Homo sapiens: one gene and its partner. Changing the gene in region 1 together with any one later gene gives a genetic interaction. Each region holds a gene or a part of one and is shown on either strand. Other genes may lie near its edges.

What was found.
Region 2: of CDK6 (region 1) and ATG7, changing one suppresses a phenotype caused by changing the other (phenotypic suppression), as found in Homo sapiens cells (one large-scale study listed by BioGRID).

Annotation. Positions count from the first base shown.
Region 1 is NC_000007.14:92,616,574-92,620,073, reverse strand, and holds part of CDK6 (cyclin-dependent kinase 6), read left to right. Parts: intron 1-1,866; coding exon 1,867-2,002; intron 2,003-3,500. UniProt on the Homo sapiens protein: Serine/threonine-protein kinase involved in the control of the cell cycle and differentiation; promotes G1/S transition. Phosphorylates pRB/RB1 and NPM1.
Region 2 is NC_000003.12:11,310,397-11,313,896, forward strand, and holds part of ATG7 (ubiquitin-like modifier-activating enzyme ATG7), read left to right. Parts: intron 1-2,907; coding exon 2,908-3,024; intron 3,025-3,500. UniProt on the Homo sapiens protein: E1-like activating enzyme involved in the 2 ubiquitin-like systems required for cytoplasm to vacuole transport (Cvt) and autophagy.

The DNA.
Region 1 (3,500 bases):
AGCTGACTGGTGAATATACACAAAAATATTGATACACATAGACCTGACAACTAAAAAGGAATGAAAGGAAATTTTTAAAGCTCTCTAACAAGCATTTTTCATTCCCTCCTCTGCCCTGTCCCATTGTATCCAGACACTTACACGTGCATTTCTTTTCATAATTAATAGTGGTATTTTTGGTTTTTTTCTTTTTACTTCTATTGTAGGCTGTACTATTGAACAAATCTATATATTGCTCATTGTCATTTCTATTTATTGCTTCTAGTAAATATGTCCATGAATCTGTCTTTGCCTCAATAATGTAGCTCTCTCAGTATGCCTGATAGAGGCCGAATTACAGTGTCTTCCCCAGACACCCAGGCAGAGAAGCCATGATGACAGGGTTATCTTCCCAGCTGAAGTCTATGGCCTGGGCTCCGTGTAGGTGAGGGAAGGGGAAATGAAGTGCTACAGATCTTGAGACCTGTACCACATCTTCCTGAAATCTGGAAGTACATTCATAAGAACACCTCTTCCTGGGCCTTAGTCCCAACAAGTAGAGGCCAAGCAGAAGACCCTAATGTGGGCCAGCACAATTTCTAACTGTAGTTAAAATTATTTGTTCCAGTATTTGAATAGCTATGTACCCCGTCCACTAAACTATGATTTTATTTTTGGTTCAGAGTTATACAGTCTGTGTGAGAAAGAAGTCCCTGCATCCTCTGATTTTCTCTGTTCAAACCTACTTACGACCTATATGTAAACTATAAATAATATCTATACAATGTATAAGTTATGTAAGTCCATTGACCCATTAATTTTTTAAAGAATCTTAAGTTATACATAGATACAAGCAGTTCATATTTTAAGTGTGGTAGTGATGTATTTCCTATGCATCTTGTATTAATAACATTTTCTAATTATAATAATAGTAGGCAGTGTATTGATTGATAATTGACTGTGTGTGATGTATATCAGGTGCTGTGCTTTGTACTTTAAATTATAAATTTATATATTACTATAAATTCAAATAAAGTATAACTGATCCTCATTACAACTGTAAGTTATTATCATTGTATACATAAAGACACTAAGGGTCATAGATGTTAAGTAATTTGTCCTTACCTGCCAGTAAGTGGCAGGTGCAGGATTTGAACCCAAATCTGCCTATTTCCGAAGCCTGTGCTTATCACTTGCTGTTCTTTCCACATTTCTGATCCCAGAATGGTTTTCAGGGGAAATATAAATAATAGTCTTTTAATTTACTGTTTGCTCACTTTGGAATACCACAGACTTCCTTTTATAAAATCATGTTTGTATAATGCAGGACTAGCACGTTTTAGCCTCATTTTTCCTTCTGATTCTAATGTATATATTTAATATGTAGGGAATTGCTCTTTAACCAAAAATGCAACCAAATTGATATGTTAATAAACCATGTTGGATGAGCATCATAAAATCATGTCAATACTGGGGTGTTCGATCAAAACACAAAAAGCATTCTTGGACATAAAGGAAGATATGTACCAGTATGGGTCTCCTCTGAATACAATAAGTCCTGCTTTGTCACTAAGTCAGAGCTTACTGCCTGGTAATATATTTTCTATTTCTACATCATCCCTTACATTTAGTGTCTGCTACCAGAGCAATCTCTTATCTCCTCCCACTGAATTTTACAATTCTTCTGTGAGATTACCCTCTCCCCCATGGCCACCATATTGCAGTAGGACAGAGATAAACAGAGACCCTGCCAGTGATAAAGTGAAGGTCTCCTGGGACTCTGCCCCCCATGTCTCCCCCTTAGATTTTGCCTTTCTCTGGAAATTGATGAGAAAACAGCTTCTGCATAGTAGCTAATGCTTATGTCCATGTGTGGTTCTTTTGTAGCGTGATTGGACTCCCAGGAGAAGAAGACTGGCCTAGAGATGTTGCCCTTCCCAGGCAGGCTTTTCATTCAAAATCTGCCCAACCAATTGAGAAGTTTGTAACAGATATCGATGAACTAGGCAAAGACCTACTTCTGGTAAGTTTTTCTGATGTCAAGCTCGTCTGCACTGTGCCAGTGAGACACCTGCTCTACCCAGACTGGGTGGTGGGCACAAATATCAGTTCAGTAGCTGCTATAGGCATCACATGCCACAGCCACATGGAGCAGGAGGCAACAGTCCCTCCAGAGGTTTCATTTTCACACTTGTAGCAGCTGGTGGCTTTTGATTCTGGAATGTCTTTCTGATCCACATTTTTTTAAATCTGCCATCTTTGAATGTTTATTTCAATGCAGGTTTAGAAGCCTCTCGATTCACTTTGACATATGTTTCTTTAGAAGTAAATATTATGTTTCCTTTCTTACAGTTTCATGCTACTTTAAGTAATTTGTTTGTCATTTTAACGTGCCTTTTCTTAAACATTCACAACTTTGGGGAGATGTTTTTCCAAAAGAACTATATAGCAATACTTCTTCTAGTTGCTGATTTATTTAATAAGTATTTAGTGTGCCAGGGACATATAAAATACCTCACTGAAAATAAGGACTTCTGTGCTCTGAGACTCTTAATGCTCAACCATATACATAATTTCCTATACTTGGAGGCCAGAACAATAGGTAGAAAAGTGTACCTGTTGGGCTGTTCTTGATGTCTGAAACCCAGTGAGTAATGAGTGTCTGCTTTACCTCCTGAATTAACAGCCTTTGATATCTGCTTCTGCCCGTGGGTGAAGCACAGGTCTTCTCCATGTGTCTCATGCTGGGGCCCATGCCAGAGAGGCAGCAGCTCCCTGGGGCATGTTTTTCTCATGATAGAAGGTATCGATGCTCCAGAAGGGCAAGCAGAAATATGCAATGCCCCTGAAGGTCCATACTTGGAAGAAGTACCCGCCACTCTGCCCATGTTCCATTGGCCAAAGCAAGTTCCATGCCTAAGGCCAACTTGAATGGAGGAAAGAATGCTCCCCCTATGGTGAGAGGGGAGAGAAAAGAGGGAATATGTACTAAAAGTTATCCAATCTACCATAGTATCCAACTCTTGACTAAGTTGTGATTCCAAAAGCTCATTTTATAAGTAAACTATTTGGCAATTAAACTAAATTTTCTTGCAGAAACAATATTATTAACACAAAGTTTTTTAATTAACCCTCAACCTGGCAACCTTGTTCCTGAAGTAGAGCAATAATAGAACTTAAACACCTTTTTTTTAACCATATTTCTATAGGACAAAATGTATTAAGACTTCCAACGTGAGATTCTCCCACACCCCCACATTTGGCTAAGGTGTTCTCCTTCTCTCCACCCTCTTCCCAGCTTTAAGCCATCAGTGTAGCTGTGAGGAAAGGGCTTCCTCTCACATAATCCTCTAGAGACATGTCTCTGTATTGTGAATGTATTCCCACAGCTCTTTTCTCTTCTTTCCTATGTCCTGGAGATTAAATGCCACTACCTAATTTTCTCCTTCTTGGGCTCTGGGAAAAGAGAACTCAGGCTCAGGAATTTTGCCCCTGCTTTCCGGTCCTTTGGGAATTCAGCC
Region 2 (3,500 bases), on another chromosome or scaffold:
TCCTCCTAGATTCCTAGATGCAGGGGAGGCCTCTGATTTATTGCCCAAGGCAAAGGAGGGTATGATAGCAATCAAACAAGGCCAGTGGGTGGCTATCTACAAGGAACACATTTTCTAACAAGTTATAATGCTTTCTATGTAATAGTGGAGGAGAGAGAAAAATGTTTAAATTTTTTGTCTGATTACTTGGCTCAGTTTGGCATTAATAATCTGTCTATACGTTTGGGTAATTCTGTAGTTTTTTTTTTTTTTTTGAGACGGAGTCTCGCTCTGTCACCCAGGCTGGAGTGCAATGGTGCGATGTCGGCTCACTGCAAGCTCTGCCTCCCAGGTTCATGCCATTCTCCTGCCTCAGCCTCCTGAGTAGCCGGGACTACAGGCACCCACCACCACACCCGGCTAATTTTTTGTATTTTTAGTAGAGAGGGGGTTTCACCGTGTTAGCCAGGATGGTCTTGATCTCCTGACCTCGTGATCCGCCCGCCTCGGCCTCCCAAAGTGCTGGGATTACAGGCATGAGCCACCGCATGCAGCCTGTAGGCTCTTTACTGGGATAAATTGTAAGCATTGCTAGTTAAAGATTTCTAGTTACTTGAACGTCAGTACGCTTTCTGTACCAAGAATTCTCATAGTAGAACATGCTGACAGTTTGCATTTAATGAGAAAAATAACATTAGCTCTTACTTAAAGTTTTAAGGTTTGCCTAGAGTCAGTATGTGTGTTGGTCTTGCTGCCTTGTTTACTGAGCATTCTTAGCCTGACTTAAAAAAAATTGTAAGTATCTACTTTTTAAAATCTTCAGACACCAAGGACTTTATGTTTAATTTAATGGAGGTCATTTCTATCCTGAAAAGAATCCTAAGAAATGCAAGCTTTTTGACTTTTGAAAATGACCTGATAAAGTTTCTTAGAATTCGTGAGGTCCGGCCGGGTGCAGTGGTTCATGCCTGTAATTCTAGCGATTTGGGAGGCCGAGGTAGGCGGATTGCCTGAGCTCAGGAGTTTGAGACCAGCTTGGGCAACATAGTTAAACCCCGTATCTACTAAAATTAAAAAAAAAAATTAGCTGTGCATGGCAGCCTGTAGTCCCAACTACTCGGGAGGCTGAGGCAGAAGAATTGCTTGAACCTGGGAGGTGGAGGTTGCAGTGAGCTGAGATCGTCGTGCCGTTGCACTCCAGCCTGTGTGACAGAGCAAGACTGTCTCCAAAAAAAAAAAAAAAAAGATTTTGTGAGTTTCTTCATCTTGAATTGTTTAACCTTTTACTAAATATCGGTTATGACAAATCATTTAAGTACAAAGAAGAGAAAATAATCTCTGGAGGTGTTTTTGCTTTCCTTCTGCTGTTTTTTAGGACTCATAGGACTAGACAGTTCATTAATTTCAGCTTTGCAGTTCATTTTGCCATTGTGAAGAGGGAATTTTTTCTTAGTTGATCAATGAATAGCAGAATTAGAGACCGCAGAGATTACAATTATTAGACTTTCTCATCTGTACACATGATTACATATACATTTACATTTTAAAACTCATCTAGTATGATTTCATTTATATGAAAAGTCCAGACTAGGAAAATCCACAGAGACAGAAAATAGATTAGTGGTTGCCAGGGGATGAGAAGAGGGGGAATGGGGAGTCTCTGCTAATATGTATGAGATTTCTTTTTGGAGTGATGAAAATATTCTGGAATTAATAGTGATGATGGTACAACCATATCACTATACTAAAAAGAAACCACTAAATTGTATACTTTTTAACATGGTGAATTTTATGGAACGTAAATTATATCTCAATAAAAAGTCATCTAACAACCATCCAATTTTAATTCTTAGCAAGATTCAAGAAGAAATATTAATTAGCTACATAAACTGCATTCATATTCAGTGGTCACAGGCTTGTAGGCAAGCTGCCAAATACCCACATATGTCTGGAATGCTACCATGAATTTAATTAAGGCCCCAAAAGCTGTAAGAATTCTGAAGCAAGAGCCATTAGCGTGAGTGGGAACAGTGTCAAAGACAGCCTCACAAATCCTTTCCCCTGGATCTCCTACCCTGGTGGGGGATCGGTCAGATATACCCGTGAAGATGTAACCTCTTCTATTCACCCATCCAGCTTACTACTTAGAGCCTCTCCATGGCTCTAATCATGCACTCGCTTTATCTCTGCTCTGTCCACAAAGTGAGCTGCCTGGTGTCTGGGACTGGGGTTTATTCATCTTATTGTCAGTGTCTTATGTTTTGCCTTGTACATAGCAAGGGCTTGATAGTTGTTGACTTAAATCCACTAAGCCATTTACAAAAGCAATATTGTATTATTTCAGGCATGCATACATATGTGAATAGCACAGCTTCCTTAATAACATGTAATTTATTTGATTGTGAAGAGAATGGTAACTGTTTGGAAGTTGTGCTTCTGTAGATAGTACATTAAGTATCTATGGTCAGTGGAAAAAAGCTTAAGTTTTGGAAGCAGAGTTCTGATCTCTTCTCTGCCCCTTGCCATCTTTTTTGTTGTTGTTTAGGTTTTTTACCCCTTTGTAAGATTCAGTTTTCTGTTTATAAAATGGGATAATAGTAAATACCTCCCAGGGGGGTTTTGTAGGTTAAAGGATGATGATGATAATATCAATTACATATTGCACATTTTCTGTTAGCAAGTGGTCAATAAAGTATATTATGTTTGTCATCATATTATTAGTGGTGGTATATGAGACTATTTTGGGAATACAAAAGTCCTTTATTTGATCATGAGTTCTGTTGGGGATGAGGATATTTGATAAGCTGGACAGACTTTGTTTGCATAGCTTTGCTATCTTAATTGGCCTTGAGAAGCTACATTAATAGATGCATTTCACCTTAAGTTAATGGTGCTATTCTAATAACTTATTTATACTTTTTTTTCTAGGATCTAAAGAAGTACCACTTCTACTATTGGTTTTGCTATCCTGCCCTCTGTCTTCCAGAGAGTTTACCTCTCATTCAGGGGCCAGTGGGTTTGGATCAAAGGTTTTCACTAAAACAGGTATCAACAAATAACCAAAATGCACATAAAATTGGGTTGAATGTGCAAGAGTAGTTATGTAGTTCTTTCCAAAGACAAACAGGCACTTCTCTGGATGAAGACGTGGTAACTGAAATCCTCCAAAGGTGGTACTAGGAGCAGACTTATTTAGAAAATGTTTGTAAAGTCATTTTTTTGTATATATATTTATATATGTTTTGAGACTGGGTCTCACCCCCATTACGCAGGCTGGAGTGCAGTGGCACGATCACTGCTCACTGTAGCTTCAACTTCTCAGGCTCAGGTGATCCTCTCATCTCAGCCTCCTGAGCACCTGGGACTACAGGCATCCCATCACACCTGGCTAATGTTTGTCTTTTAATAGATATGGGGTTTTGCCATGTTGGCCAGGCTGGTCTTCAACACCTGGGCTCAAGCAATCTGTCCACCTCAGCCTCCCAAAGTGCTGGGATTACAGGCATGAGCCACCCTGCCTG